7 linked regions of the Homo sapiens genome follow. The protein of the gene in region 5 purifies or fractionates together with the protein of the main gene of each other region. This does not show direct contact. Each region holds a gene or a part of one and is shown on either strand. Other genes may lie near its edges. The genes, in order: C2CD5, RTEL1, ZC3HC1, NFIB, SASS6, EFL1 and IGHMBP2.

Evidence for each region.
Region 1: the proteins of SASS6 (region 5) and C2CD5 purify together in Homo sapiens (affinity purification with mass spectrometry; one large-scale study listed by BioGRID and IntAct). This does not show direct contact.
Region 2: the proteins of SASS6 (region 5) and RTEL1 purify together in Homo sapiens (affinity purification with mass spectrometry; one large-scale study listed by BioGRID and IntAct). This does not show direct contact.
Region 3: the proteins of SASS6 (region 5) and ZC3HC1 purify together in Homo sapiens (affinity purification with mass spectrometry; 2 studies listed by BioGRID and IntAct, with this or other methods). This does not show direct contact.
Region 4: the proteins of SASS6 (region 5) and NFIB purify together in Homo sapiens (affinity purification with mass spectrometry; one large-scale study listed by BioGRID and IntAct). This does not show direct contact.
Region 6: the proteins of SASS6 (region 5) and EFL1 purify together in Homo sapiens (affinity purification with mass spectrometry; one large-scale study listed by BioGRID and IntAct). This does not show direct contact.
Region 7: the proteins of SASS6 (region 5) and IGHMBP2 purify together in Homo sapiens (affinity purification with mass spectrometry; one large-scale study listed by BioGRID and IntAct). This does not show direct contact.

Annotation. Positions count from the first base shown.
Region 1 is NC_000012.12:22,523,346-22,527,807, reverse strand, and holds part of C2CD5 (C2 domain-containing protein 5), read left to right. Parts: coding exon 1-87; intron 88-2,102; coding exon 2,103-2,198; intron 2,199-3,180; coding exon 3,181-3,336; intron 3,337-4,183; coding exon 4,184-4,382; intron 4,383-4,462. UniProt on the Homo sapiens protein: Required for insulin-stimulated glucose transport and glucose transporter SLC2A4/GLUT4 translocation from intracellular glucose storage vesicle (GSV) to the plasma membrane (PM) in adipocytes.
Region 2 is NC_000020.11:63,685,086-63,689,547, forward strand, and holds part of RTEL1 (regulator of telomere elongation helicase 1), read left to right. Parts: intron 1-437; coding exon 438-512; intron 513-705; coding exon 706-787; intron 788-2,552; coding exon 2,553-2,685; intron 2,686-2,851; coding exon 2,852-2,965; intron 2,966-3,053; coding exon 3,054-3,094; intron 3,095-3,215; coding exon 3,216-3,301; intron 3,302-3,442; coding exon 3,443-3,520; intron 3,521-3,969; coding exon 3,970-4,047; intron 4,048-4,416; coding exon 4,417-4,462. UniProt on the Homo sapiens protein: A probable ATP-dependent DNA helicase implicated in telomere-length regulation, DNA repair and the maintenance of genomic stability. Acts as an anti-recombinase to counteract toxic recombination and limit crossover during meiosis.
Region 3 is NC_000007.14:130,023,663-130,028,124, reverse strand, and holds part of ZC3HC1 (zinc finger C3HC-type protein 1), read left to right. Parts: intron 1-1,812; coding exon 1,813-1,967; intron 1,968-3,618; coding exon 3,619-3,862; intron 3,863-4,401; coding exon 4,402-4,462. UniProt on the Homo sapiens protein: Required for proper positioning of a substantial amount of TPR at the nuclear basket (NB) through interaction with TPR.
Region 4 is NC_000009.12:14,114,917-14,119,378, forward strand, and holds part of NFIB (nuclear factor 1 B-type), read right to left. Parts: intron 1,431-4,462; coding exon 1,292-1,430; coding exon of another isoform or gene 1,265-1,291; intron 1-1,264.
Region 5 is NC_000001.11:100,083,070-100,086,462, reverse strand, and holds the end of SASS6 (spindle assembly abnormal protein 6 homolog), read left to right. Parts: intron 1-832; coding exon 833-927; intron 928-1,028; coding exon 1,029-1,135; 3' UTR 1,136-2,893; downstream 2,894-3,393.
Region 6 is NC_000015.10:82,259,326-82,264,362, reverse strand, and holds the start of EFL1 (elongation factor-like GTPase 1), read left to right. Parts: upstream 1-1,628; 5' UTR 1,629-1,749; intron 1,750-1,834; exon of another isoform or gene 1,835-2,226; intron 2,227-2,565; 5' UTR 2,566-2,584; coding exon 2,585-2,675; intron 2,676-5,037. Other genes in the region: SAXO2 (stabilizer of axonemal microtubules 2), read right to left, coding at 1,431-1,483. UniProt on the Homo sapiens protein: GTPase involved in the biogenesis of the 60S ribosomal subunit and translational activation of ribosomes.
Region 7 is NC_000011.10:68,909,477-68,913,938, forward strand, and holds part of IGHMBP2 (DNA-binding protein SMUBP-2), read left to right. Parts: intron 1-1,963; coding exon 1,964-2,127; intron 2,128-2,909; exon of another isoform or gene 2,910-4,462. UniProt on the Homo sapiens protein: 5' to 3' helicase that unwinds RNA and DNA duplexes in an ATP-dependent reaction. Specific to 5'-phosphorylated single-stranded guanine-rich sequences. May play a role in RNA metabolism, ribosome biogenesis or initiation of translation.

The sequences.
Region 1 (4,462 bases), on a different chromosome or scaffold from region 5:
AAGTGTACATTGATATTGATCCTTTACTGTATAGTGAAGCTGCAACAGTCATCTCAGGATGGTTTCCAATTTATGACACCATACATGGTAAGGAATAATAAGAAAGTATTATAAATAACAATCTTAATCTTTTTTATTTGTCCTTAAAGACATTTGTGCTATATTTGCTGGTTTAAAATATGTATCTTTAGGCTAGGTGCGGTGGCTCATGCCTGTAATCCCAGCACTTTGGGAGGCTGAGGCGGGTGGATCACCTGAGGTCGGGAGTTCGAGACCAGCCTGATCAACATGGAGAAACCCCGTCTCTACTAAAAATACAAAATTAGCTGGGCATGGTGGTGCATGCCTGTAATCCCAGCTACTTGGGAGGGTGAGGCAGGAGAATCACTTGAACCCGGGAGGCGGAGGTTGTGGTGAGCTGAGATCGTGTCCTGTGCAACAAGAGTGAAACTCTAGCTCAAAAAAAAAAAAAAAAAATATATATATATATGTATATAATATATCTTAAGATGATGCCTTTTTAAAAATAAATAATAGTAAATTATTGTTAGTAAAATTGTTGCTTCTCTCAACATAATTTGAGATAATGCTTGCTAAATTTGTATAGTATAGTAAGTAAATGCATGATTTAAAACTGATCTAGTATTGATACTGTGTTTCTAAAACACATTTTCAAACTGATTAATAATGATTTTTGTACTTAAAAGTTACTTAAAAGTTTTTTGTTGCCTGAAGCAGGGCCTCCCGGGCAGTTGCGATTGCAGGCACATGCCATTGCAGGCACATGCCATGACACCTGGCTGATTTTTAAATTTTTTGTAGAGACACGGTTTTGCCATATTGGCTAGGCTGGCCTTAACTCTAGAGCTCAAGTGATCTGCCTGCCTCAGCTTCCCAGAGTGCTGGGATTTGCTTTCTTAATATTTTAGTAGGTAAATTATTGAGTCAGTTTTCTTAAGTCTTCCACCATAAGTATGAATTTGACATGAAGTCAGGACAGTCAAGTGAAAATATTTAGTAAATGTTTAGAGATAAGATCTGGGTCATTCTTATTTATCAGAGCATGTTTTGAAAACCCTTATTCTTGGAATTTTTTATTTACTTAATTTTTTTCTCGCTGTGTTGCCCAGGCTGGTCTCAAACCCCTGAGCTCAAGCTGTCCTCCTGCCTTGCCTCCCAAAGCACTGAGATTACAGGCATGAGCCACTACTCCTGGCTTGGAATTTTTTAGTTAGCTTGCTTTAACTTATATTCATTGAAAAGAATAAAACTTCTTTTGTTTTAAATCAGATTCTTGCATTGTTAAGAATATATAATCTGGGATCATAAAGATCTGAATTTTAATCCTGGATCTGCCACTTAACAGCTATTGACACTGTAAATTACTTAATTTTTATTAAAAATTTCTTCCTTTGTAAAATGGGGATGATACTACCTTATTGGGTTGATGTGACTGCTCTGAGATACTACCTGTAAAGTGTTTAGTACATCGTGTATCAGTGCTCAGCAAATGTTGTCACCATAATCATTATCATCATCATCAATTCAAATGGGACTCCTTTCTAATTAGTCTTGGGTCAAAGTGGAGACTTGTGAAAATGAAAATTATTCATATTCTAATGCATACGTGTTGTGCTTCAGAAAATATACAGAAACTACTGAAAAAGAAAATAACTAGGAAACAAAGCTGGCATTACTATTATGATCAACACATTACAGATGCACCTTGATTTGTGATGGCGTTATATCCAGATAAACTCATCCCAAGTTGAAAATGCATTTAATATATCTAATCAACCAAACATTATAGCTTAGCCTAGCCTATCTCAAATGTGCACCGAACACTTATATTAGCCTACAGTTGGACAGAATCAACTAAAACAAAGACTATTTTTTAAATAAAGTATTGAACATCTCATGTAATTCATTGAATTCTGGACTGAAAGTGAAAATCAGAATGGTTTTGCACCATGGTAAAGTTCAAAAAATTGTGAGTTAAATCATTGTATTTTAAAATCATTATTTAGCATTAATTTGCTTCATTATTTAATTGTACATTACTTTCTTAAGGTAGAAACTTGATTTTCTTTTTAAATTTATAGGTATCCGTGGGGAAATCAATGTAGTTGTCAAAGTAGACCTCTTCAATGATTTAAATCGATTTAGGCAGTCATCATGTGGAGTCAAATTCTTTTGCAGTAAGTAAATACATTCTATTACTCAACAGGAAATGTAATAACTGTTAAATATGAGAAATCAAGTTAACATTTCAGAAGGCAAGTAGAAAAGCTATTGTACTTGGTTTTAATGCCAAAGAGAAAATTGTTAATTTTCTAGAATAGTTACAGTAGTTCTGATTTGAGTATAAATGATATCTAGTTTTTGAAAATTTATAGAAATTTTTATTAGAAAAATCCAGTGACATTTCACTGTAGTATAGGACACTAAAAGAAAGGAGCAGAACACTACGGCTAAGCACTATGGTGCTGTCCCAAAATACACAGGCTTTTATGGGTATTGGGTCTAGGGAACTCCATGAAATATATGGGTCTGAAATGGGCAGATCTTGGTGATCACAGCCCGCCTGCAGTAGTAGGATTGAAATCCCTAAGTAGTTGACTTAGCTTCAGTGCACCAATGTTTATTTTAAGAGACTAATTTGGTACAGATGTATTCAGGTTCTCTCTCTCCTTTTTGAATCTGAACTTGACTCCTCAGGTTATGTCAGAAAGGTAATGGTTTGATTTTTGAAACTGCTATGTGGTGTACAGAAGTACTTTTACAAAGGGCTTTGAATAATTAAAGATTTAAAAAAATTCATTATCTGCTTTCTACCTATTTATATAATAATTAGCTAGCTGACTTAAATTTTGATTTTTTAAACTTTGTATTGAATTCTGTTTAAGGTCTTCTATAGCTGTTTTCCAAATTATACAAATGCAGTTTATATTTACTTTGCTTACATGAGAAAGGTGAGAGCCTCCATGAAAGACAATAATTATTTCTAAAAATGAAATAGATCTTAGAAGACTGGAAGTATTATTATAATTACATTGAAAATATTACAGTAAAAGATGTTCTTGTATTATGTATCTAAAGGTCAGAAAATTGAGATGTACATTTTTTAAAAATTGAGTTTTACCTTTTGATAAACAGAAGCATAATAATTTGTTTTAACAGCAACGTCTATTCCAAAATGCTATAGAGCTGTGATAATTCATGGATTTGTAGAAGAACTTGTGGTCAATGAAGACCCAGAATATCAGTGGATTGATCGAATTCGCACACCAAGGGCATCAAATGAGGCCAGACAGAGACTCATTTCGTTAATGTCAGGTATTTAAAAAAAATAACTTTATTACTGACTGATTTAGTACTCTCTTAAATTTTTTGCTTTCCTTTGACATGCTACCTCAACTTTACAATGAAGGCTATGAATTATAAGTGACTGCATGCCTTCCCCTGGGCCAGTCTTCCTGAACACACTTGCATTGCCCTCTTTTAACAAGTGGAAATGCAAATCAGAAGCTTGTAGTAAAAGGAAATTGTGTTGATGAGGTAGTGTAGTGGAAAGAGCGCTGAGCAAGGGGCGTTCAGGAAGGAACCCTGAGTGGGAACCTGGATTCTAGTTTTCCTTCATCTACCATTTATTTGTCAGAGCTTAAGCAAATCACCTTCTTCTGTCTCTCATACTTTCTGTTCAGATGTTGCCTTTTCACAGTTCCTCCCTAGGTACTGTAGTTCCCTCTATCCTTTTGACCACTTTCCCTGCCACTCTGACCTCATTCCCTTTTTAAATTTTTCTTTGAAAAACTTGTTTACTGTTTTATTTAAAATTTACATTTATATTAAGAGTTATATGTGTATATGTGTGAATATATATTCATACATGTATTTCACACAAAGTATCAATGTTATATTTATATAGCAAATATATTTGTTTTTATTCTATATATTTGTGCTGTATAAGTATATATTATATTTTATAATTATGCTATATTGTAATAGAATTATGTTCTGTATTCTGTAGAGGCTAAACCAGATTATCTTTTAAGTTTCCTTCAAGTTCTGAAAATCTGTGATTTTCTTGGTCTTTTTTTTTTTTTTTACCACTACCATGTCCAGTCTTATAGTATGTAATGTAAAGCTACAAAGCAAGAATGAGATTTCCCATGTTTTGTAGGTGAGCTGCAGAGGAAGATTGGCTTGAAAGTACTTGAAATGAGAGGAAATGCAGTTGTGGGGTACTTACAGTGTTTCGATCTGGAGGGCGAGTCTGGGTTAGTGGTGCGAGCCATAGGAACGGCGTGTACTCTGGATAAATTAAGTAGCCCAGCAGCATTCCTTCCTGCATGTAATTCCCCATCCAAAGAAATGAAGGAGTAAGTATGAATCAATGAAATTGTTCTTGCTAAGATTTTTATCTTTTATCTATGCTTTTTCATTTGATTTGAAACATTTT
Region 2 (4,462 bases), on a different chromosome or scaffold from region 5:
CCATGTTGCCCAGGCTGGTCTCGAACTCCTGGGTTCGGGCAGTTTGCTCCTCTCAGCCTCCCGGAGTGCTGGGATTACAGGCCTGAGCCACTGCACTAGGCCATGTTGAATTTCTAGATTAATTTGGGGCCCTCAGGGGCACAGAGAGGAGGGCTGGGCCAGTTGGCGGGAGGAGAGGCCCCTCGGGCTGCCGCATTTTCAGTGCATGGAGATGGCCTATGTTGGGGGAACACAGAGCTCACCGGGGGTCCCTGCAGGGAGGAGAAAGGGTCAGGCAGGTGCCAGCTCCTGTCCATTGGCCTGGGGCTGCATGATGGCAGGGGCCGGTGAACCGATGACCCCTGGGTGTCCTGTGACCTTCTGTGTATGCGGCTGATGCTGCAGAAAGTCGGGTGGCCTCAGGCTCCTGACGGGGCTGCACTTCCTCTGCCTTTCAGATTGTGTTCAGTGTGGACCCCTCCGAGGGCAGCCCTGGTTCCCCAGCAGGGCTGGGGGCCTTACAGTCCTATAAGGTAGGGGCCACCTCCAGGAGGCAGGTGGAGGGCAGCCCTTGTTCCCCGGCAGGGCTGGGGGCCTTACAGTCCTATAAGGTGGGGGCCACCTCCAGGAGGCAGGTGGGGCTGGGGGTCTTCTGGTCCTAAAAGGTAAGGGGCTGCCCCCAGGACATGGGCGGGGCCTCCACACTCCTGGTCCTGTCCCCTCCAGGTGCACATCCATCCTGATGCTGGTCACCGGAGGACGGCTCAGCGGTCTGATGCCTGGAGCACCACTGCAGCCAGAAAGCGAGGTACAGACCTGGGCCCACACGCTCCCCGCCCGCCCGGGTGCAGTGCCCGGCACCACCATGCCACAGGCTAGGCACATGCCCAGCCGTGGATCTCCTGCCCCCATGGGCCTGGCCACCTTCTCCATATCCAGGCCAATCCAGAGCATTCTCCTCACTGTCCCTCTGAAGATTGGAGTTACTGAGAGACGTAGGAGATGGCCTGATGGCACCGTGACCTGCCCAGAGTCACCTGGTTGGTGGTGGCAGAGCCACAGCCCAGCCAGGCCTCCCTGCTGGGACACGCTCGTTTATGCCGAGGCCGTCAGCACAGAGCCTCCACAGTGAGGCACGGCTCTGCCTGCTGCCTCCACGCAGCGCCTGGCCGGGCCAAGCCTCAGGGTCACATCTGAAGGGGGCCCGGCTGGCCCTGTTGTCCGAAGCCCCTGGTGCGCTCAGCCCCGAGGCCCCACGTGCCTTCTTGGCTTCCTGTGCTCCGTGGCGTCTTCGAGTCGGTGCTGCCGGGGACGCTGTGTGGATGGGGTCTGTGAGTGTGCCCTCGGCTCCGTGTCCGGAGCCCTGTGGTTCTTGGGGTGTATCTGGCCCCACCCCCACTGCGTGGTGTCCAGGGTGGGGCTTCACGGCTGCAGCTGCGGGAGCTGCTGCCCCTGCCTTGTGCTCCAGTGGGGCCTTGCCTCTGGGCTTGGTTCGTCCCTCTCTGGAACATTCTTTCTCAGCTGCTGTCCGACCCATGGTGGCATGACGTGGCCCTGGCTGAAGCAGCCCTTGTGCGGTTGCTGTGGTTGGGTCTGCCTGGCCGAGCCGGAAGGGAAGGGCTGGGAGGGCGTCAGGGTGGCGTGGCTTGACCCCCGCTCGGTGATGGTCCTGCAGCAAGGCCTCTCCCAGCAGGAAGCGTCCATCCCGGGGGGAGGCCGGCGCCCCTCACGCAGTTGGGGTTGCGGGAGGCAGTGCGTGCCTGAGGCAGCCGGTGCACAGATTCCAAGGGCCTGGAATCTGTTTGTTCCATTGACCTCTGATGTCACTTGACTTCTCAGAAGCAGCCACTCCCTGCACTGGGCGTTTGTAGGAAATGAGCTCCTGGAGGAGGGGGTGGGGAAGTTCCCCCATTGCAGGGCACACTCAGCCCCAGGAAGGAAACGTGCCTCGTCCCTGCTGACTCCGAATCGCAGTCAGAGTCGTTCTGCTTGTGCCGTGTTGAATTCCCGGCATCCGGCATCCAGACTCAGCCTCCTCCCCAGGCCACGGCCGCCGTGGCCAGTCGGTCAAGCCCTTCTAGGAACTTCCTTTGAGCTGGCGCCCTTGTTCACTGCTGACGCCACTCAGAGGCTTGTGCACGTGTCCTGCTTCCAGGCAGAGCTGGGAACTCGCACCCCGTCTTCTGCACGCGGCCGTGGAATGTCGGGATGCCGGCGCTTCCTTCCCGTGTGCTCTTGGCGGGGTGGGCTTCTTGCCCTGAGCCGCATGTCACAGTTTCTGCAGAAGTTTAGGGTTGGAGTGGGCTGACCTCTCTGCAGGTGTCCCCAGCCTCTGCCTGGGGTCTGCCTCCTACTCCCAGGACCCCCTGTCCCCCAGAGGGGCCCCAAGCTGGCAGGCTCACACTCAGGGCAGCCTCCTTTGTTCTGACTTCTGCACAGTGGGCCTGGGTGGCTGCCCGCGGCTCGCTTGCTTGATGCCAGTGGGTGGAGAGGGTGATGGGCAGAGAGGCAGGTGGTCAGGCCCCCAGTCCCGTCCTCACACTCTGTGCCCTCTGCCGCCCCCCGCCCCACAGGGAAGGTGCTGAGCTACTGGTGCTTCAGTCCCGGCCACAGCATGCACGAGCTGGTCCGCCAGGGCGTCCGCTCCCTCATCCTTACCAGCGGCACGCTGGCCCCGGTGTCCTCCTTTGCTCTGGAGATGCAGATGTACGGGCCACCCCTGCCAGGGCCTGAGCACCGGTGACACCTCTGACATCAGCGGGGTGGAAGTGGTGGGGGTCCCCATGAGCCGGGTGCTGGGGGTCTCGGGCCTCGAGGGCTAAAGGGGTGCTGGTGCACTTCCCCACTGTCTGCTCCCTCTGGCCACGCTCAGCCCTTTCCCAGTCTGCCTGGAGAACCCACACATCATCGACAAGCACCAGATCTGGGTGGGGGTCGTCCCCAGAGGCCCCGATGGAGCCCAGTTGAGCTCCGCGTTTGACAGACGGTGAGGGCCTGTCCCTGGGCCCTGCTGGGGTGGGAGGTGGGGGAGCACTGAGGCCTGAGGTCCTGAGCAGTGGCCTCTCCGGCTCTAGGTTTTCCGAGGAGTGCTTATCCTCCCTGGGGAAGGCTCTGGGTGAGTGCCCTGAATGCCCCAGCTGTGCCCATCCTGGATCCTGGACCCCTGCTCCCAAGAGCTGGTAGGGAACCCTGCAGACATCCTGCCCCTGCCTTGACCCCGGCCCCTGCACTTCCAGGCAACATCGCCCGCGTGGTGCCCTATGGGCTCCTGATCTTCTTCCCTTCCTATCCTGTCATGGAGAAGAGCCTGGAGTTCTGGCGGGTGCGTCTCCCCTGTGTTCTGGGCGGGGTGGGTGAGGGCAGGGCTGGAGCATGAAGCAGGCAGTGGTCACAGCTCCTGCTTGCCCTCATCGGATCGGCGGCGTGACCAGGGCTGCCGTGTCCCTGCCTCTTCCTCCCACAGGCCCGCGACTTGGCCAGGAAGATGGAGGCGCTGAAGCCGCTGTTTGTGGAGCCCAGGAGCAAAGGCAGCTTCTCCGAGGTCGGCACTTGGCCGGGGCTCTGGGCCTGCTGCCCCCTCGTGCCTCCCCTGCCTCTCACAGCTTCCCCAAGGCTGACCACTGGCCCTGACCATGGGCTCCGGCGGCTCCCGCTGCCTCTTCAGGGCTCCTGCGTTTCCTTCCTGGCCCTGAGTGTTGCCTCTTATCTTACAAAGCCCCCAGCACCGGGTGGGTGTGGTAACAGTGGCCCTCCTGTCTGAGTAGCCCTAGTCGGCCACCCTGGCCCTGGGGTTCCCCGTGTTTTCTGGGAAGCACTGAGCAGGCGTGGGGTCAGCCTGGGATCCGTGCCAGGAAGAAGCTTCCAGAACCCGATTGGCCTTCCTGGCTAGGACGATCCTTCATCTTGGAGCATGAGACCTGGGTCTCCCTCATGGGGGAGGAAGGGGCTGGGGGGGGGCTCCAGGCTCAGCCTCACCAACTTTCCTTCCAGACCATCAGTGCTTACTATGCAAGGGTTGCCGCCCCTGGGTCCACCGGCGCCACCTTCCTGGCGGTCTGCCGGGGCAAGGTGAGCTCTCCAGGGCCCTCTGCCCTGACCTGGTTGCCTGTTCCCTGGTGGGTGCTTATGGCTCCCCAGCAGACTCTGGGCCCTGGGGGCTGCCCGGTCCCCTCCTTGGGTCCCACGAGAGCGACTGCTGGCCCTGCTGGGAGCGTGTCCTGCTCTGGGCCTGGGCAGGCAGGATGGGAGTTTCCTGGCCACAAGAGTTGGAGGTGGCGTCTGGGAGCTGTGGACCCCAAGTGGGGTCCTGACCCACAGATGGAGCTTCCTCCCACCCCTGGTTGGGGACGGAGCCTCGGGGAAGGTGGCTGGGCTGGGTGTGGGCACCAGGGAGAGGAGCCCCCACGGCCCCAGGCAGCTCCCTGGTGTGTCCCCTAGGCCAGCGAGGGGCTGGACTTCTCAGACACGAATGGCCGTGGTGTGA
Region 3 (4,462 bases), on a different chromosome or scaffold from region 5:
GGTGATCTTGGCTCACTGCAACCTCCGCCTCCTGGGTTCAAGCGATTCTTCTGTCTCAGCCTCCCAAGTAGCTGGGATTACAGGCACGTGCGACCACGCCTAGCTAATTTTTGTAATTTTAGTAGAGACAGGGTTTCACTGTGTTGGGCAGGATGTTCTAGATCTCCTGACCTCGTGATCCGCCCACCTCGGCCTCCCAAAGTGCTGGGATTACAGATGTGAGCCACCACACCCGGCCATCATTTTTCAAAGAAAGTAACAAACTCCTTTCTCCTTGTGAGTAGAAATGTTTAAATGCTGTAGTCAGCCCGGGCACAGTGGCTCATGCCTGTAATCCCGGCACTTTGGGAGGCTGAGGTGGGTAGATCACCTGAGGTCAGGAGTTCGAGACCAGCCTGGCCAACATGGTGAAACCCCGTCTCTATTAAAAATACAAAAAATTAGCCGGACATGGTAGTTTATGCCTGTAGTCCCAGCTACCTGGGAGGCTGAGGCAGGAGAATTGCTTGAACCTGGGAGACAGGTTGCAGTGAGCCGAGATCGCACCATTGCACTCCAGCCTGGGCAACAAGAGCGAAACTCCATCTCAAAAATAAAATAAATGCTCTAGTCAATCTGTACTTTGAAACTGAATATTTACTGTTCCATTTAATCACCCTATGGGTACTCCATGAAGACAAGCTTTACTGTAGGAAATAGTAGCCTCTTCAAATTAAGAGAGTGGTATGGGTTTTAGCATCAAACTGTTAACCTCCCAAAGTCCCCTCCAAGTACTAACCAGGCCTGACCCTGCTTAGCTTCCGAGATGAGATGAGACTGGACGCGTTCAGGGTGGTATGGCCATAGACTGAAACTATTAACCTCTGATGCTTATGAATATAACCCTGTCCCTAGCCAAGGCAATTTTTTTTTTCCACCTGGTCATAGTTCCTTATTTTTCTTAGAACAAAAATAAAGTCTAACGAGCTTTGTTGTTCTGTCAAAAAGTAAATTTAGAGCCTGGGGCACAGTGATGTATGCCTGTAGTCCCAGCTACTCAGGAGGCTGAGGTGGGAGGATTGCTTGAGCTCAGGAGTTCAAGACCAGCATGGCCAACATAGTGAGACCCCATCTCTAAAATTTTTTTTTCTTTAATTTTTTTTTTTTTTTTTTTTTGATACGGAGTCTTGCTCATTCGCCCAGGCTGGAGTGCAGTGGTGCAATCTCAGCTCACTGCAAGCTCCGCCTCCCAGGTTCACGCTATTCTCCTGCCTCAGCCTCCAGGGTAGCTGGGACTACAGGTGCCCGCCACCACGCCCGGCCAATTTTTTTGTATTTTTAGTAGAGACGGGGTTTCACCATGTTAGCCAGGATGGTCTCGATCTCCTGACCTTGTGATCCACCTGCCTCGGCCTCCCAAAGTGCTGGGATTACAGGCGTGAGCCACCACGCCTGGCCTCTTTAATGTTTAAGTAAATTTAGTGTCAGGCTAAGACATAAGCAGTAATTTGTCTTCACTATTTGGGTTTGAAGTTTGCAGGTTTCAGGGAAAATCTGCAGCTGGTAAATTGAACAATTTAGTACTAACAAGAGTTTTGGCAGTTCCAGGGAGACTCCATCTTTCTCAGTCAGCAGATTCAGGGCAATTCAGAAAGCTTCTGTGTGATACTATAGCCCTGTCCCTGGAAGTATTTTGTTCTCTGTGAAGAGAAGTATCTTCATGTTTGTAATTTCCTTCCTGATTTTCGGCTTGTACCATCTAGGTATGTTATAATGTGTAATTTTTCTTTTTATGGTGGTTGAAACGAAGTTTTTTACTTGGCTCCCTTGTAGTGCTTGACAGAAGACAAGATCAGTCTTCTCCTACACTTGCTTGAAGATGAACTTGATCACCGAACTGATGAGAGAAAAACTACAATCAAATTAGGCTCAGACATCCAAGTCCACGTCACTGCCTGTATTCTCTCTGTGTGTGGCTGGGCGTGTAGGTGAGTCAGCAGATTTTGCCTGGAGACATGAACCATGACAACAGCATTACACCCATATATATCAGTCACTAATCGTATTTAGAAATCACATGGTGTTTCCCGTGAGAAAAAGAGACAAAGAAAAACTGGGTGGGGGATGGTGCGAGGAGAATGGATAATAAGAATTAGTAACAAAACCAGAATTGGAATTCAGGAATTCTTGGTGTTCACAACTGAACTTTGTTTCTTGTACTGTTGCTTCTTAACTGGGAATTTGTGTTCTCTTTTTTTTTTTTTTTTTTTTTTTTGAGACGGAGTCTCATTCTGTTGCCCAGGCTGGAGGGTAGTGGCGTGCGCGATCTCAGCTCACTGCAAGCTCCGCCTCCCGGGTTCACGCCATTCTCCTGTCTCAGCCTCCCGAGTAGCTGGGACTATAGGTGCCTGCCACACGCCCAGCTAATTTTTTGTATTTTTGGTAGAGACGGGGTTTCACCGTGTTAGTCAGGATGGTCTTGATCTCCTGACCTCGTGTTCTGCCTGCCTCGGCCTCCCAAAGTGCTGGGATTACAGGCGTGAGCCACCACACCAGGCTGAATTTGTGTTCTATAAACAGTGAACCTCCTTTCTAAAAATGGAAAGAAAATAAGCTCTTTTCTATTTTTAAGAAGGAAAAATAGAAAGGAAGTTCTTTTCTATTTTTAGAAAGGAAGAAAAATCCGCTTAATTGATAAAAACTACCATAGGAAACACCAGCTGGAGTCTTCTAGGCCCCCATGTTGCTATTTCCATTCCAGCTGCTCAATTTGGCATAGACTCCCACTATCCTTAATCTACCAAAGAGAGCATATTTAAAATACATCAAGATTGGTTCTGACAGTAAATAAATCTTGATGTATTTTAAATATGCTCTCTTTGGTAGATTAAGGAATGTTTTTTGTTTAAAGGGAAAAGACTTTAAGAGGGACAAGAGAGGGTGGGTACGGTGGCTCACACTTATTTAATCCCAGCACTTTGGGAGGCCAAGGCGGGTGGATCACCTGAGGTCAGGAATTCGAGACCAGCCTGGCCAACATGGTGAAACCCCATCTCTACCAAAAGTACAAAAATTAGCCGGGCATGGTGGCGGGTGCCTGTAATCCCAGCTACTCAGGAGGCTGAGGCAGGGGAATCACTTGAACCTGGGAGGCGGAGGTTGCAGTGAGCTGAGATCGCACCATTGCACTCCAGCCCGGGCAACAAGAGCAAAACTCTGACTCAAAAAAAAAAAAAAAAAAAAAAAAAAAAGAGGGACAGGAGAAACTTTTTGTGTTGTTGTTGTTGTTGGTCAGGCTGGTCTCGAACTCCTGACCTCAGGTGATCCACCCACCTTGGCCTCCCAAAGTGCTGGGATTACAGGCATGAGCCACTGCACCCGGCCGAGAAACTTTTAAAACATGCCTGCAAAACAGTCTTACCATAGAGAGCACACTAAGAACCCGAGGTCTTTCTATGGGAAATATGTGAGAGATGATGAAGTATGAAGCTGGGTCCTGAGACTGGAGCACAGAGGCTCTGATAGGACATGGTGACTGTTCCAGAAATTGGATGAGATAAGGCATACTCACAAGACATTGCACTTAGTCATTTGGAAATGTTACACTTTGAGAAAACTCTCTTTTTCATTCCTATCTAGTTCCTCTTTGGAATCCATGCAGCTCTCCCTGATAACATGTTCGCAATGTATGAGGAAGGTGGGGCTCTGGGGCTTCCAGCAGATTGAATCGTCCATGACTGACCTGGATGCATCCTTTGGCCTGACCAGCTCCCCAATCCCAGGCCTTGAGGGGCGACCAGAGCGCTTACCTCTGGTGCCTGAATCTCCTCGGAGGATGATGACCCGGAGCCAGGATGCCACTTTCTCCCCAGGCTCAGAGCAGGTATTCACTTAGCTTATTTGGGGTGGAATTTTAAACAACATTCTTGGCAAAAGTGTTGTTGGTAGAAAGTTGGAAATTAATTTAGGTGGATAGGCTTCTCTTCCCACTACATTGGTTACGATACCACATAGTGTTTCTGTTCACTAATGGGGAAGCTAAATTCAGCCAGACCCGGTGGCTCACGCCTATGATCCCAGCACTTTGGGAGACTGAGGCAGGCAGATCACTTGAGGTTAGGAGTTTGAGACCAGCCTGGCCAACATGGTGAAACCCCGTCTCTACCAAAAATGCAAAAATTAGCCAGGTGTGGTGGCAGGCACCTGTAATCCCAGCTACTTGGGAGGCTGAAGCAGGAGAATCACTTGAACTCGGGAGGCAGAGGTTGCCATGAGCCAAGATCGCCTCACTGCTCTCCAGCCTTGGCAACAAAGCGAGACTCTGTCTCAAAAAAAAAAAGAAAAAAGATTAAAGAAAGAAGTATTTCTGACCATAATCATTAATATCATTCGTGTACTTCCATTATCTCCCCTTTCCTTCAGGCTGAAAAGAGCCCTGGTCCCATTGTCTCTCGAACTCGGAGCTGGGACTCTTCCAGTCCTG
Region 4 (4,462 bases), on a different chromosome or scaffold from region 5:
TACTTAGTGTTTTGGTGACTGTAATGCACATAGCAAACCTCTAGAACAAAATAATTTTTAGTTTTTCCTGAGTAGGTCGCATCCATCTGTGCATTCAGGGAAGTATTCTAAGCATTAAGAATTACTGATGGGTATTACAAGCCTATAGGAACTTATTAATTGACGGGGCTCATGAATTTTGAGAAAGAAATGCTGAATTCACTGTACAAAGTATTGTCCATTTTTCTTATAGGGTTCCTTCCTAGTCTTTCAGAAACCATAAAAAAAAAAGAGCATCTTTCCAATGGCTGAGAAAGAATGAGTGGTGCATGCCTCTGATTGTCTCTGATTCACATGGAAATTTCAAGATCATGGGGATTTTCTTGCTCTAAGAAAGAAAAAAAAAAGGTTTGAATTGAAGATATCTGTATAATTGGTGAGGTGCATGCTAATTCCACCAATTCGATAGCTTTATCCATTCTACTTCACCAATTTGTACATTCCAGCTCCAGTACTAAGAAGCTGACAGTTGGGTGAAACCACCTCAAAATTAATTTCTTCTATACTTCTAAGTATTTTACATGAAAAAACAAAGGAATGATGCGGCTTATTGGTACGTGTTAGGAAGGTTCACTGGCTAAATCTCTGACATTTAAATGTTATGGCCACACTAAAAAGCACAGTATTTGATGTACCAATGATAAGCAAAATAATCAAAAGGTTTTAAAAAAAAAGCTTGCAGATAGTGAAAGTACAGGTAGCTTACATGTGCCTAATACTAAGTTTTGAAATGTCCTCATCTGTTCCCAACCTTATGCGACTGTTTTTAACAATGACATAACCTACAATGATGTAAACATGCAATTACCTTACAGAGGCACTGATTCCATCTGCTTTGTGAAGGGGCTTGATTTCTATAGGAATGCTCCAATAAGTACCAATTACCTAATCTCTCTTTGGGTGATACGAAAACTTTGTATTCTGCGTTATGTTACTCAGTGCAATTTCAATGTATACCTTGAACAAGCAGGCATGACTTATTATTTTTGTTATAGCTGTTAACTTAAACAAGTGAGCTTCTCCCTTTTCAAATATGATTCACTGACTGGAATTTGAGAAGAGAGAGCCTGTGATAGCAGGGCCACATCCATGCCTGCTAGCTCCACTTAAATGAGAAATCTCCATCTGGTCAGGTAGCTGGAAAAATTGCCGTGTTTTCCACCTTGGATCAGATATCCAATGGTGCCTCTGATGGACATTTCTCATTTCCTATGGAAATACTTACTGGTTGCTGTAGGTGAAGCTGCCTCACCTTCAGTGGATGTAGTGATGGGTTTAGTATCTGTCATGCTCAGGGTCACAGGTCGCACTGCACTGGGATGGGGAGAGGGTGCCAAGACAGGAGTGAAATGGCCAGGCACTTTCCCTACTACTTGACCACTGCCGTTAGGCTACAAAACAAAAACAGAATGCCGGGTGAAGCAATCCAAAAGGCAGTCATCTTGTTCAACAAGTCCACTCAGCACACACGACTGTGTGGATCCAGCACACTGCGCATAGGCGCCACACAGGCCCTCTCGAGTCGGAGTCGGAGAGGCCAGTCAATGGTTGGTAGTAATAAGGAGCAGCAGCATTTCAAAGAAGGTTTTCATCTTCAAAGCACGTCATGGTATAGGTGAATTCCTCTTTACAGCACCCCTGAGAGCCAGGTAGACTTGATCCTTTCATGTAGTAGGCCAAGAAACTCAAGTGCAGACTTAAATGCTTAGCCCAAAGGCTAAAATGGAATTCCTTACTGAACTAGCTACAGTTGGAACCCAATGCTTCCTTATTCTCTGCTCTTCATTTTCTATAATGAGTCAGTTTTGGCTTTTAGAACACAATTTTCACCTACATGATGATATCACTGAAACAAAGGACACAAAAATATCTAGGAGATCAAATACAACGAATTCTGGAATTTTCATCATTTACAGTCAAGAACCATTCTCCTGCATACAAAACTCTAGCTCTCTTACACACAGGTGTGCTGAGATGCACACATTAGGCAATTTAGATTCCGAGATCTATGGTCAACTTTTGATGATTTACTAATACAAGAAGATAGAATAAGATGTAAAGCATCTAAAATTTCAGAGGTCATACAATGATATAAAATGCTGAGCTACGTTTGTCCTTACACCTACAAATAAAAGATTTCCAAAGTAAATTAAACTGTACTGAGGGGAAGCAGAGGACAAGCAAATGAGCATTGTTATTTGAGTTACTCTTACATCCATGGTGGTGCATGGAGAGTTACACAAAACATTTCTTGTTGACATTTGTGAGAATTAACTGAGAAAATCCCCTGGGCAATGATAGAAAAGATGTTACTATCTGAGTTTTAGCTCCTGGGTACAAAAATAGTTTCCGTGGTAGGAAACAAAATCCTAAGGATACACTCTTTGAAGAAATAGTGGAATATATTTTTCTAGACTGAGAATGTTATTTTTGATTATACCCATGTTGGAATTCTCCACTGCACGGTGTTCATCGCAATTTGCTGGGAGGCTATTCTCGGCAAGTATATAGTCTTTATAATCTGAACTGTTAAAGGCAAAAAAAAAATGAAGCAGAATATTTTTCTAAATATCTGCACATAAATTACAAGTAGACATTTATTTAGAGAAAAAGATGAACAGCTAATAACACTTAAATATTGTGACTTAGAGACATGAACTAAGTCTTCGGTTAGGCTCCTCAGAGGCCACATTATTTATTCTATAAAGAAAATGGACTTCCTGAATATCCTGATTATTCATCATGGGTAATTTTAAGTATTTAACTTGATGTCAGGAAAATTGACCAGAGTTTTCCAATATGGAAACCTATGGGAGAGTTACATCTTTAAACTAATTTTATTCAAAATATTCCATTGAATAGCATGACTGTCTCACTATAATTGGTGCAGCAGTAATGCAATTAATCTCAAAATTGCTGTGGGGAGGAAAAGGCATCTCAGTTGCTTATCTTAAAAATCAAAATCAGTGCAGTGCTGGAGAATATTGGGAAGCAACAGCTGACTAGAAGTGAATGGTGAAGGAATACTGATGTTTTTCCATTTCTAAAGCTAAAATGGTAAATACCAAGAATTCTAATTTGAAATGCAAATTAATTGGTTTTGAGTTGGAGTTAAAAATCAAAGCAGATACACTGTTCCTTAAAAAAAAAATCTGCAGTTAACTATAAAGACCCATTTTTCCTTTCAAAGGGAAAAAGTAGTTTGTTTCTACAGCAGGCCATCCATTTCTGGTTATCTGAACACTGGAAATAAGTGCTTTAAATATCTTAAGAAAGAAGACAGGTCTCATTTTATCATTGGTGGTACATTCAATGGTAAAAATGTTTCTACATACAGTGTTCACCAAAACAGTCTGAAAGTACCTACCTGGAACAAAATGTCTGGAGCAGAATGACAATAATTTCAAGGAAATGCTGCCACCAAATATATTATCCTACCCTGACCATTCTACAAACTTCACCTACTGGAATTGAACAACATGAACTAGTAGACACTTCTCTCATTTGAAAAGAATAAAGGTGACAAAGAAAGAATTCCCAAGTCAATGCAGACAACTTTCCTAAAACTCAGGGTGAGAAGAATTGAGGGCTATTTTCTCCTCAGTTTTCTACTGGTTCAAACAGATGAAGCTACACTAAAAATTTCTATCTTTTAAGGCTGTTAATAGATGAACTTTCATACTGTAGATAGAAAAGAGAGATGTCTTGTCTGAAGGTGAAGCTAACAGCATTAGGAAAGGATTATTCTACTTTATACACGGTTCCTATTATACAAAATCCTGAGAGTTTTTTTGTTGCTAGTTTTTCTTTTTCTTTTTTTTTTTTTTTTGAGATGAGAGTAATATGCTTCCTTAGAAGGTGATATGTATCTTGAAAAAGTGAAGAAAAACTGAGAACAATATAGGCAGATTATCACCTAATATGCCCTCTTAACTTATAAAGAAATTGAAATATACGTAAAACAAGCACTGAATAATTAAAGAAATGTGTAACACTAAGGGCCTGATTTTAATTTGCATAATTTTTCCCCTAACAGTGCCTAATTAAGACATCAGTTAAAAAAAAAATCCAATGGAACTCTAAGATTTTCCACACTGAATTAACGTTAAGGACTTTTAATGGATGTCTTAATTAGACTTTGTTATTCATGGAAATTCTACACAAATTAAAATCAGACCTTGTGTGCACTGTTCCCAGCTGAGTCTAGCAAAATGCTCTATGGAACTGAGACTTCTGAATCCATGAGCTGACAACAAATTTTATTTCTAAACGATATACTAAGATCCCACTCTCACTTAGCTGTCTTTAGTACTTCAGTCATGAAAAGTGCTACAACATTTTAACATTTTCTTCTAAAATACAAATAATAATTTTAACTTCAAATTCAAAATTCAATATTGAGTTTAATATCTCAGTCAGTCAA
Region 5 (3,393 bases):
ATTTGTAGTATGAAGTCAAACATATCCATCTGTCCATAAAATTAGGACTGTTCAGTGATTTTGAGTTTTTTCTGGTTCTTTTATTTGTCAGCTAGCAAAAAGTGGCACCGGGTATCAAACTTTAAAGAAAAAAATAAAATAGAAAAAAAGTCTGTTCACCCACTTATTTCTGAAAATTGGGTCAAGAGCAACCATCATTTAATTTTAAGGATTGATTTATTCTCATTGTTTTGCAAGAGCCTTTAACTTCTTATTACAAGTAATACTAGGGAAACCGTTAACACTGGATGTATTTAGAAAGGATGGCAGTGGTAGAAAGGGGAAACACAGAAATGCCCTTCTTTCTCCCCCAGATTTTCTCATTTGTATTAATTTGATCAGAATTTATTGTGTAATGTGTGTTAATACTTGATCATGACTACTTTGAAGCACTAGAAAATTTCGAAGAGCTTTTGGTCAAAGGAAAAAGAAATCTTATTTTAAATATGAGTTAGAAATTAATAGTGTTACTCTCAAGGCACGTATTTTTCTGTCATGTATCACTTATGTGCTAGTATTTAAATTTTTATAGCACTTGTAGAATTTTCATTTTTCCCACCATCCTTATCCCAGCTCTTAAAATTTTATTATAATCTACTCTTTACTGAGGATACTTTGGTTTATGTATAAAATTACCATTTGCTTAAGAAACCAGTGAAGAATGTGTTCTGAACAAAGCTAAGCTATAAATAGAACTTAGTTACATTATCTTATATATATGTATACATATGAGATAAACCTTCAAAGTTAATAAAGACTTTGTTAAATAAGTTATTACCATTTTCTTTTTAAGTGGTGAAAATGTAGGGTTGGAATCCAAATACCTGAAGAAAAGGGAAGATAGCATTCCTTTACGCGGACTCAGCCAGAACCTATTTAGTAATTCAGGTAAGCAGGGATTTCTGGATTTTTGTACTTTATAGTTGAATTAAATTTAATGTATGAAGACTTAATGAATACCAGTAACCTTTTTTTGTCCTCATTTGCAGACCATCAGAGAGATGGCACTTTAGGAGCATTACATACATCTTCCAAACCCACAGCGCTCCCCTCTGCGTCTTCAGCCTATTTCCCTGGGCAGTTACCAAACAGTTAATTCTAGTGTCATGTTTTACTTTTTATTGGTATTTTAGAAACTCAGGTGCTTAAAAAATATGTCAACACAAACCAGATCCTCAAATAGCAAGTTTCAAATTTTACTTGAGCTGTTAAAGACTGGATACTTTAAGTACTGCTTTTATGGCAGTTTATAATATAGGAACAAATTTGTACTTGGGGATTGGTAAAGATTGTGAGTAAATGACATTTTTTGGTTTGTGAACATGGCGTTTTATAGAATAATATGAATTTTATTAAGCTATTCTTTAGAAATTCAGTTCTAAGGAAAGAGTTGATCCTTATGAGGGAGATTCTGATCATATTAAAAATCTGGGTAAACTAAAACCTGCTCATAACCTCATAGTATGCAACCAAAGAATACTAATTCATTTTATCACTTTCATTGGTAAAACTTTTAAATTCAACACCTGAAAATCATGAGGGAAAATGATTACCTCTTGAGATATATTATTGATGACATTTAAAGGGAAAAGTCCTAAATTTACCTTAAATAACTGAAATGAATTAAGCCTTCATAGCGTATTTTCCTTGAAGCATTTAAATTTGCTAGTGATGAATCAAATAAATTTGATATACTTAAAATAATTTGGACAGTTTTTATGTGACCAGATTAAGTGCTTTTGTCATTTGAGCTGACAAGTTTTTAAAACTTCAGTGCTTCCTAAATGTTTATACTCATCTAGTTTTTCTCAATTTGTAGTTTTATTATGCAGTTAAATCTGTATCAGTGGACTTTTAAAACTTGGTACTACTACTAAATCTACTATATCATGAATATTCATTTATTTTTATAGTATCAGAACTTGGGTTGATTTCAATGTTAATAAACTAGGCAAAACAAATAACTGTTAGAAGGTACAATTTTCTTCTCTTCCCTGTAACTGAAAGTTTTAAGAATTGTTCCTTGGGGAAAAATTTTTTTAAAATTCACCTAGAATCATAGGGCCTCATTTTGTTTTCTTATTGACAAACAATACCTGGTAGCATTCTCTAAAGAGTCTTCTAGATCAATTTTTATAAAGTACTAATGCTCATGTGATAATTTAAAATTATTTTCAACTACTTTATTACACAGATGAAGAAACATTTCAAGATATTGATGTAATAACATTACTGAGTCCCATGGTAAGAAAGAATCTTTGCTAATTTTTTTTTTTTTTTTACGAAGCCAGTATCTTGAAACTATTGGCAATTGCAAGTGTCTTTAAACTAGGGATCTAATCTGAAAATTCAGTAACTAATATTAGGCAGTTGATACTCCCCCACCTCCCCCATTTAGATACACTACTGTATTAGTGAGAATACTTGGTACAGTAACTTGAAAGCACTTGCTATTCTGGAAAGAAGCCTCTTGGTGATTTTGGAAGGAGCTTTATTGTAAATACTATGGAAGGGGCTTTGTTGTAAATACTATGTAATATATATAAAATATTGTGACATGTTTTGGATGGGATGCATGACATACAGGTAGCTCTCTTTTTTAAAATATAGGTATCTCTTTGCATATATATACACAAGGAAAGTTGAATTTTCAGGAGAGATCATTCTGATATCTTGCAAATTTGTATTAAATGTATACAGACTTCCAAGTGTGCTAATTCTTTACCTCCTAAACTTTTAGTTGCAATTGTTTTGCAGTGTAAAATTGTACATGTGTTAATAATCAAAAAGTGTTGCATTTAATGTTATTTCTGTAAACTTTGAGCTTTGTTAATAAACTATTATGCAGCATCTACACTTTGAAAATCAAGTACTTCAAAACGCATACTGCATTTTTGTTTCTTTCCTCTTGTCTTCCTTGAAGAGCATTTTTTAGTGAGGGAAAAGAAATGGATGCAAAGAAAGAATGAATAATGCTTTGATTTGTTACTGTAAAAATATGGTAACAAAGCCAAAACAGACCCTGTAGGAACTCACAGATCAAGACTTTTTTAAAAAAAAAATCATTAAAATATTTAACTTTATTAACAGAATATTTACATTTCTTTTAAGACCTTATTTAACCATAGTGAGTGTTCCAAGTTTAAAAAGCATTAAGCAATAACCACACACAAGATGAAAACAGTGTAAACTATACAGTTCTTTATATACAATTTTTACAAAGTAACACTTTTTTAAATAATATAACTGGACACAAAAATATACACTTTAGAGAAATTCACATCGGTAATTGTATAAAGCTCTCCTCTAGGGTCCTGAAAATTTAGGACAAACATTAGCTCTGTAAATAAAGTG
Region 6 (5,037 bases), on a different chromosome or scaffold from region 5:
CAGGCCAGGCGCAGTGGCTCACGCCTGTAATCCCAGCACTTTGGGAAGCCGAGGCAGGCAGATCATGAGGTCAGGAGATGGAGGCCAACATGGTGAAACCCCGTCTCTACTAAAAATACAAAAATTAGCTGGGTGTGGTCGCACGAGCCTGTAATCCCAGCTACTCAGAGAGGCTGAGGCAGGAGAATTGCTTGAACCCGGGAGGCGGAGATTGCAGTGAGCCGAGATTGCGCCACTGCACTCCAGCCTGGCAAGAGAGCCAGACTCTGTCTCAAAAAAAAAAAAAAAAAAAAATCAATGCATATGTAAAACAAGTCTTAAAGAACATTTGTTATCTGTGGAAGATAGAATTATGAAGGCGTTTTACAATATTATAGATATTTTTGCTTAGATTTTTATGATACTTCTTGTGTATTTATTGCATTGTCAAAAAATAAAAATAAACCCTTAAAAAGACAAAACTAACAACCACAGCCCAAAACAAACAAACAAGAAGTAAAATCACGCCATTCCAATGGTGGCCCTCAACATAATGAAGACTGAATTTCCTTACAGTTGAATGAGAAAGGAACTTGCGTTGAATATAAATTAGGAGAAAAGTAAAAATTTTCTCCTGCACACCAGTCTGAGGATTCATACACCCAAAGTTAATTTGTTGATATTTTAATCTATATATAATTATGAACTGTGTTTATTATGAGACTATTAAAAAAACTGCTTTCCATCAACATGTAGGTGTTTTCTTTGAATGGGATTACAAATACACCAGGGATTGACAACGTTCATATTTACTTAGCAAATAATGATCTAATCCCTGGGTCAATAGTGAAGCTGAGGAAGGAGAGGACTGTGTTTACAGGTGATGGAAGGTTGTTAGGCAGGACTCACAGTTGGATTCTAGATTTCAGGGTAGGGACTACTTACTGACTTTTCAGTCAGGCGGATCCCAAAGAACTGCTGCCTGGACGGGAATGGGAATATGGTCTGGCTGGGAGGACAGAAAGCTACAGATGAAAGAAAATGTGATATGGGTTGCAGACTCAGGGCCTTGAGCACTGTTCTTTCTCATCTTCGTGGTGGGGGATTATGGGGTGGAAATGCACTCTCCCAGTCGGATCACATCCCACTACTCACCAGCGTTATATCCCGTCGCGGCTTCACATATATTACTTACCTGGCCCGGGTGGCATTTTACTTTGCATCCTTGATTGGGAGTCTCAGGGGCTACGAACAAACGTTTTACCCCCGGGTAGCAGGCGGGTGAGGAGCGAGTATTCGCGGAGCGGGATAAGTGGGGATGTCGCTGCGCCCTCGTCCCTTCATCTCCGGGGGACGGCCACTCTCAGGGTTCCCGAGGAGCCGGCTCCGTGCACCTAGGCCCTAGGTCGGCTCCCAAGCCCGGGCCCGCCGCTACACCAGCCGTTTCTTACCCGCAGCTACAAATCTGACACAGACACCAGCTCCTCATACTCTTGGCTCCCATGCTTTCCTCCACCGCGCCTCAGCACTTGCAGCTTCTCCACTCCCACAGCGCCCGCCGTAGTCAAGGCAACAGAGGGATGCCCGGTGACAGACTCGGCGCCGGCTTCCGGCGGCGTCAGAGACGTGCGGGTGAAAGGTCGAGCGACAGCCGGCCCCGCCCCCTGGCGCGCGGGCGTGTCGGACCCGCAGAGCTCTCGGACTTTCGGAAGCTCTCGGTGTGGGTGCGACCCGAGAGAAGGAGCGGGGCTGGTGGGGCTGCTGCAGCCGGTGAGTGTGGGCTGGCGCTGGGGGCTGGAACCTCCTAGGCCAGCCTTTGGGCGGTGCCGGAGGAACCCGCTCGCTGCGGCTCTGAGGCGGGAACAGGGGCTGGGGCCGAGCGCGGGCTGGGAGCTTCGGTCCCCGGAGTGCCGCTTCCCGTCTGGGGCCGGGGCGGTCGCCTGTCTGTGTGGACCCAGGATCCTCAAAGAGAACGAATCTGGGACCCTGCAGAAATGAAGGGCATGTAGTGTAGAGGTTTTTCCTTTTTATTTAGAAAGGAATGAAAGACCGGCAGTGCACCTGCTTGGATAATAAGCACGTGACCCAAAACTTTGTTCGGGCTCCATGGGCAGGAATAAAGCTGGGTATTTGACCTCGCGCGAGGACGAGCGAGAATGTCAGAATGAGGGACTTGGGGGAAGACTGAAGAGAGAAAGGGAGCATCTTCTTCAGCATTTTCTCTCCCTCCTGGATGCAACCCTTCCTGTACGTGGTCATTGGCCTGGAGATGTTTACTGGAGTACTCCTCCACCGGCAGGGTTACTGGTGTCACTGTGCACCCAGTCCCCTCGAGCTGCGTGATTCATCGCAGCCTTTGGATCCGGAAGGATGAGCAAACTCCTTAAGTGTAATCGTGGTAGGATACTGACTTTAGTGCTCGAACTGGACTTAGGCCTTGGTGGTCTATCTCATCAATAAACATTCACTGGGTTCTTGGTTTAAGGGGTTTGAGAAGCTTGCCACCTCCCAGCGTTTATTATTATTTTTTTCTTTTGCCCCGACCTTTAGCCTCTGGGCCATTTGTAATACATATTTAATTTTTAGTCACAGGAAATAAGTAATCATGGTGCTCAACAGTTTGGATAAGATGATTCAACTCCAGAAAAACACTGCCAACATCAGGAATATTTGTGTTTTGGCTCATGTTGACCATGGTAAGAATACTTTTTAAATGGCTTATTTTGATAAATAAGGGAGATGTGTCTCTGTATGTCTCAGTGGAGTGAAGCTGTGGACAGCTGAGAGTGATGTTTGCTAAGAAGCAAGTCTTCTTTCTTTAAAAGTTTTGTGTGATGTTAGGGAAGCCTGCTTTGCTATAAAGCATTTGAAATGAACACGGTTACCTAGTGAGTAGCATTCTTCTATATATTATGTCATGTTGTTTTTTAAAGCAGAACTTGAATTTTTTGTTTTTGAAATGGCTTTACATATAAAATGTCTGTAGTCTTGACATAATGTCCTTAGAGTCTGTGGTATGTGATCCTATTTAATTCATCAGATATTTATCAAACGTCTGTTAAGTTCAAGATATTTTGCTTAGTATGTCTGAAGGTGGAGATTTATGAGTAGGGCACTAGCCCAGGGGAGGTTTTAACGGGGAGCAGAGCAAAATGAGACAAACAAGAGAAAAAAGTAGACTCTAAGGTTGGGAGAACTAGAGGATTAGGAAGTGAGGGGTTAGGAAAAGACCTCACAACATAATTAGTATTAGAGATGACACTTGAAGGGGGCTCAAGATGACAAATGGAGATAATCATTACAGGTGGGAATGTGTCATCAAGGGGAGAGGGAAATATATGTGGTCAAAGCCCAGTATATGGGAAAGGCAGAGATAGCTAACCCATGGTATGTTCTTCTGACAGATACTGCTGTAACTCCATAGCGCTCCTTCATGCTAAGCCTCCTCTTGATTTCAAACCTCTTGGTAGTTTAGGTAACCACAGCAAAGTGATTGGGATGGGCATATGAAATAAAACATATTTACCATCCTGAAGATGAAGGACCAGTTGGCGAGGTGAAGAAGCAGGCTGAGTCATATCTCATAGAGCTGCTCATGCCAGCTAGGAACTGGGATAAGAGTTGAGTGCTCCAGCTCTGGAGTTAGACAACCTAAGTTCAGATCTCCATTTTCAAGTTACATACCTTGCCTTTTTGAGCTTCAATATACAGCATCTGTAAAACAGGATGAAAACTATACCTGCTTTATAGGCTATAGGATTAAATGTGATAATAATGAGAGGGAAGGTAAACGCTTCACCATGAAAACGATCATTAATGTCTACTATTAGGCAGTAGGGAGCCTTTGGGGGAAAACATGGAGCAGGAATGATGTAATCAAATAAAACATGAGAAAGATTAGATTGGTAGACATGCTTAGGATGGATCCAAAGTCAGAGATTAGGTGGCTGTTGTCATTGATAGAAGAGCTGAAGTAATGTGAGTATGGAAACTGACAGAAAGACAGATAGTGGATCACTTACAAGTGAAGCCAGCTGTGAATGAGTTTTAGTACAAATCCAGTGAGTAACCCCTGCCTCCATGAGTTTTTATAATTTTACTGCTCACATTTTGAGAATGTGAAGGCTGATAAAAGGGTTTTTTTTTTCTTTATGAATTTATTCAAGTGGAAAGTTAGTGGGGTGTAACAAATTACTTTAAATGTATTGTTTAAAATTATGTTAAGCTGCTACTATCCTAAAAAACCTGGGATTCATCCATTCAACAAGTATTTTCTGAAGGTCTTCTATATGACAAGCGTTGTTCTGGTCCTAGGGATACTGCTGTGAATAAAGCAAAGTTCCTGCTTGCTTGATAATTATTTTCTAGGGAGGTATATACTTGGTGTACTTAGAATAAATTCAGCTTTACTGGGTAGCAGGAAAGTGATGCTCTAGGATTATATGCTAATACATATTTACATTGCAGACAGATAGCAGTGTTAAATATCTTCAGTTCTCCTACTCATTGGTCTCTGGTTTGAACAATACAGAGATTCCATAGCTTTGCTGAAGTTCCTAAAGTGCAATAAAGACTTGTCTTGAAGGAAAAAAACCCTCCTTTGCTTACTCCAACCCAGTTGTAGTAATTATGCATACCCCTGACATTCTTTACACAGAATCACCTGTTTATATCACATAAAATCTCATAGACTTTAGTTGTATGTAGTCTGCTTAATAAAAGTAACTATAAATATATTCGAAGATTCTTTTGCTTTAAAGTAGATTCCTAGGTTTAGATTTGGATACTAGGTTTCATTGGTTGTTACAGTATGTTTATGCCCTCCACATGCTATATTACAAACAGTAAGAGATATGGATAATGTTCCTGAATTTCTTTGATAAGTAAGTATTTTCTTAAGACAGTTTAGCAAATTCCAGCTGAGGCCATGCATGGGGAAATATGGCAAAAGAGTATGTTCTCTAAAGTTACTTGACAACTTTTCAGATGAGGTTGAGTAGATCCACAGGGTTGGAGATAAGATTACAGCATTATAGAGTGCTAGCCTCTGTGTCCTTC
Region 7 (4,462 bases), on a different chromosome or scaffold from region 5:
GCCTCCATTGAGTTTTAAAATAATGTTCTTTTTAGTGTATATAAATCTTTTATTTTGAAATGTAATGATATTTCTTTTAGCTTAGTACTTTGTGAAAATAGAGGAAAGCTGATCATACTTTATGCTTGATAGCAATTTTAGGTTGGAAAAATCTTTTTTTTTTTTTTTTGAGACGGAGACTTGCTCTGTCACCAAGAGTGGGGTGCAGTGGTGCGACCTCGGCTCACTGCAACCTCCGCCTCCTGGGTTCAAGTGACTCTCCTGCCTCAGCCTCCCAAGTAGTTGGGATTACAGGTGCCCGCCACCATGCCCGGCTAATTTTTGTATTTTTTAGTAGAGACAACATGGTTTCACCATGTTGGTCGGGCCGGTCTTGAACTCCTGACCTCAGGTGATCTACCTGCCTCGGCCTCCCAAAGTGCTGGGATTACAGGCGTGAGCCACCGTGCCCGGTCTGTGCACTTTTTATGTCCTTTGCTGTTCTTGGAGAACGTCATTTTTGGGAGGAGTTTGTTGTCTCATCCAGTCACTGCCCATGATTTAACAGTCCTGTGAGTATTGGACTTGGCCCATTTGTAAAGCGGTGGCTTTGGCCAAGCCTCATGCAAGGGTTACCCCACAGCTATTTTCTATCATACTGTGCTAGGCAAGCCAGTGTTGTGTTAGCTTCAAACACACAGGACGACTTTGTAGCACTCTTTCAGCATGCAGTCCCTCAAGATGTGTTGTTTTTAAATACTCATTTTCTTTCTGCATTTTCCTTTGGAAATTCTAAATGCAGTCACATTTCAGTAATGCTTTATTTCTATGAAATATTTACTGAAGGGCTCCTATGCGTCACAAACTGAATTAGAAATGTATTTACTGTGTCTTAGGGACTCTGGAATGGCTTGGCTAGAGCACGGGAACGTGGGGTTCAATGGCCTGTTACTAGCTGCACACCCTGCCGTCTTCCATGTTGGCTTCAGTCTCACAAGTCAGGGTCAGCAAACACCCTTTGCTTATGAGCTGCTCCTTATCCGATAGGCGTCTCTGTGTAGTGGGCACCATGTAGCGAATGCCATGGCTGCAGGGCTGAGCACAGCACCACCTGCTCTCAAGAGCACAGCATAAGAAGCAGGTCTTGGCCAGGCGCGGTGGCTCACACCTTTAGTCCCAGCACTTTGGGAGGCTGAGGCCGGCAGATCATGAGGTCAGGAGATCAAGACCATCCTGGCCAACACGGTGAATCCCCGTCTCTACTAACAACACAAAAAATTAGCTGGGCATGGTGGCACTCACCTGTAGTCCCAGCTACTCTGGAGGCTGAGGCAGGAGAATCGCTTGAACCCAGGAGGCGGATGTTGCAGTGAGCTGAGATCATGCCATTGCACTCCAGCCTGGGTGACAAGCAAGACTCCATCTCAAAAAAAAAAAAAAAAAAGAAGCAGATCTTTAGTCTTGGTCGTGGAAGATTCAAAATAGAAACACGATCCTAGAATTTGTTAATCATTGTTTTTGTCATTTGTCTTTATCATTTTATGGGCACTTTAAAGAGGGACATTATGTTAGAAAGGAATATGCTCTAGGAAACATTTCCTTCATTCCTGTTACTCTAGAGCAGGGGTTTTTCCTGTAAAGGGATGGATTGTGAATGTTTTGACTCTGTGGGCCATATCATACGTACCGTCTACAGCTGCCTGCTGTAGACGGTATGTAAATCAATGGGTGTGGCTGTGCTCCAGTAAAACTCACCAAAACCGGCAGCTGACTGGATGTGGCCCACAGTTTGCCGATTCCTGTTCAAGGAGAAACCTTGTGAAAATAAAGCAGACTTAATTTTGTGTTGATTGGGTTGCCCCTGGGGAGGTCCGGCGTGTTCCTGACAGGCATCACTCATCCCCCGGGGCACACACTCTCTGAGGAGGAACACCCACAGAGCTCCCCAGAGCACCTGAGCCTCACGCTGCTGCTTCTTCCACAGACCCGCTGACATTCTTCAACACCTGCCTGGACACCTCCCAGAAAGAAGCGGTTTTATTTGCGCTGTCTCAGAAAGAACTTGCCATCATCCATGGACCTCCTGGCACTGGGAAAACCACGACTGTGGTTGAGATCATTCTTCAAGCTGTGAAACAAGGCTTAAAGGTGGGCAGTGCATGCCACTTCCCTGTCAGAGCCCGTCCGCTCCTGGTCTGTTGTGTTCAGTGGGTGCTCAGCGACCTTTCAGCCTCAGTTCTGGTGGGATGGGTCAGGAACATTACTGAGCATTTATTGATTGAGCCTTGGACTGCCCCTGTTTGATTTCCAGCATCCCCGTGAGTCTTGGGGAGCACGCGCAGGAGCCGTAGCCTGGGTTGTTGAGGAAGGCTCCTGGAGCCCTTTGAGGCGTGGCAGCCTTCGTGTCGGCCAGGCCCTGGGTCAGGGTTTATTTGTTCACCACGCTTGCTGTGCTCGTGCTCCTCCGTGTGCACGCCCGTGCAGGGGCCTGGAGTTGGCCTGGGCCCGGTCTGTGCCCGTCAGGAGCTCAGCGTCTGGTTGAGGTGTTAACAGCTAATCAGATAGTCTGGTTAATGGATACGATGCACATGTCCAGTGCACAGATGAATGATTTTCTGAGATGTGGAATATAACATTGTACATTATTATTCACTTACATTTTAAATTTTTTTTATTTTTATTTTTTGGAGACGGAGCCTCACTCTGTCACCCAGGCTAGAGTCTGGAGTGCAGGGGCGGGATCTTGGCTCCCTGCAACCTCCGCCTCCCGGGTTTAAGTGATTCTCCTACCTCAGCCTCCCGAACAGCTGGGATTATAGGCGTGCGCCACCATGCCTGGCTAATTTTTGTATTTTTAGTAGAGATGGAGTTTCACCACATTGGCCAGTCTGGTCTCACTCCTGACTTCAGTTGATCTGCCTGCCTCAGCCTCCCAAAGTGCTACGATTACAGGCATGAGCCACTGTGCCCGGCCCAGTTACATTTTTAATGGCTGAAAAAGGATCTTTTATCATCATCTGCATCAGCTTGAGTCATTGTGGATCTTGGCACATGGAGAGTTTTTTTTTTTTTAATTTATTTATTTATTTTTAATTATACTTTAAGTTCTAGAGCTTTTTGAAAAAACTTTCTGGTTTATAAAAATGTTGGATAATGATGAGAATTGGAATAATGGCCAGTTTTGTAGTTTGATGTTTACTGGGTGCTGCCTACCACCAGGCATCGTTCTGAGCACCCATTTAATCCTCACTGAAACCCTGTGCCAAGGCAGGTGGTTAGTGGCCCCAGTTTGTAGACAAGGAAGCCGGGTGTGGTGGCTCACACCTGTATTCTCAGTACTTTGGGAGGCTGAGGCGGGTGGGTCACCTGAGGTCAGGAGTTCGAGACCAGCCTGGCTAACATGGTGAAACCCCGTCTCTACTAAAAATACAAAACAATTAGCCGGGTGTGGTGGCACACACCTGCAATCCCAGCTACTTGGGAGGCTGAGGCAGGAGAATTGCTTGAACCTGGGAGGTGGAGGTTGCAGTGAACTGAGATCGCACCATTGCACTCCAGCCTGGGCAATAAGAGCAAAACTCCATCTCCAAAAAAAAAAAAAAAAAAAAAAAAACCAAAAAAACCACGAGGAAACTGAGAAACAAGGTCAAATGCCCAGCACTCAGAGTGGCAGAGCCAGCAATGGAACTCGGGCAGAGCGCAGGGAAGCCTGTCACTTGCTTAAAAGATTACGTCCAGCGGTTTTCCAATGTGTGAGTGTCTTTGCACATGTTTGAAAACTGGTAAGAAAAGATGACTTATTGGAAGGGAGCAGATTGGTGGTTTTAATTGGGTGCCGACTATTCACTAAAAGTGAGCCAAGACACACCTGTGTGCACGCTTTGGTGGAGATATGCCTTTGGACATGCCAGTGGGGTTGGAGGCGATGCTGGGCATAGAGAGTGGGTGGCTGAGCCTCCTTCCTGAGCTGCTGTTTGTTTTGAGCTTAAGGGCCTGTAGAGACTCTGCCTCCTCTGCTGGTTGCCACCTCCTCTTTTTTTTTTCCTCAGAGATGGGGTCTCACTATGTTGTCCAGGGTGGTCTTAAACTCCTGACCTCGCACCTTGGCCTCCCAAAGTGCTGGGATTACAGGCATGAGCCACCGTACTTGGCCAGCGTCTCACTTTTAATAGTGGAGCTGTGGCTGGGTGCAGCGGCTCATGTCTGTTATCCTAGCGCTTTGGGAGGCCAAGGGGGGAGGATCACTTGAACCCAGGAGTTTGAGGTCAGTCTGGGCAACATAGCAAGACCCAGTCTCTACAAAAAATAGAAGAAATTAGCTGGGCATGGTGATGCATGCCTGCAGTCTCAGCTACTTGGGAGGCTGAGCCAGGAAGATAGCTTGAGCCCAGAAAGTCACGAAACACCAGGAGTGTGGTCTAGGTCTTGCTGCTCGCCACACAGAAAGCCAGTTACTGAGGACAAGTATTGCCAAGGAAGAGGC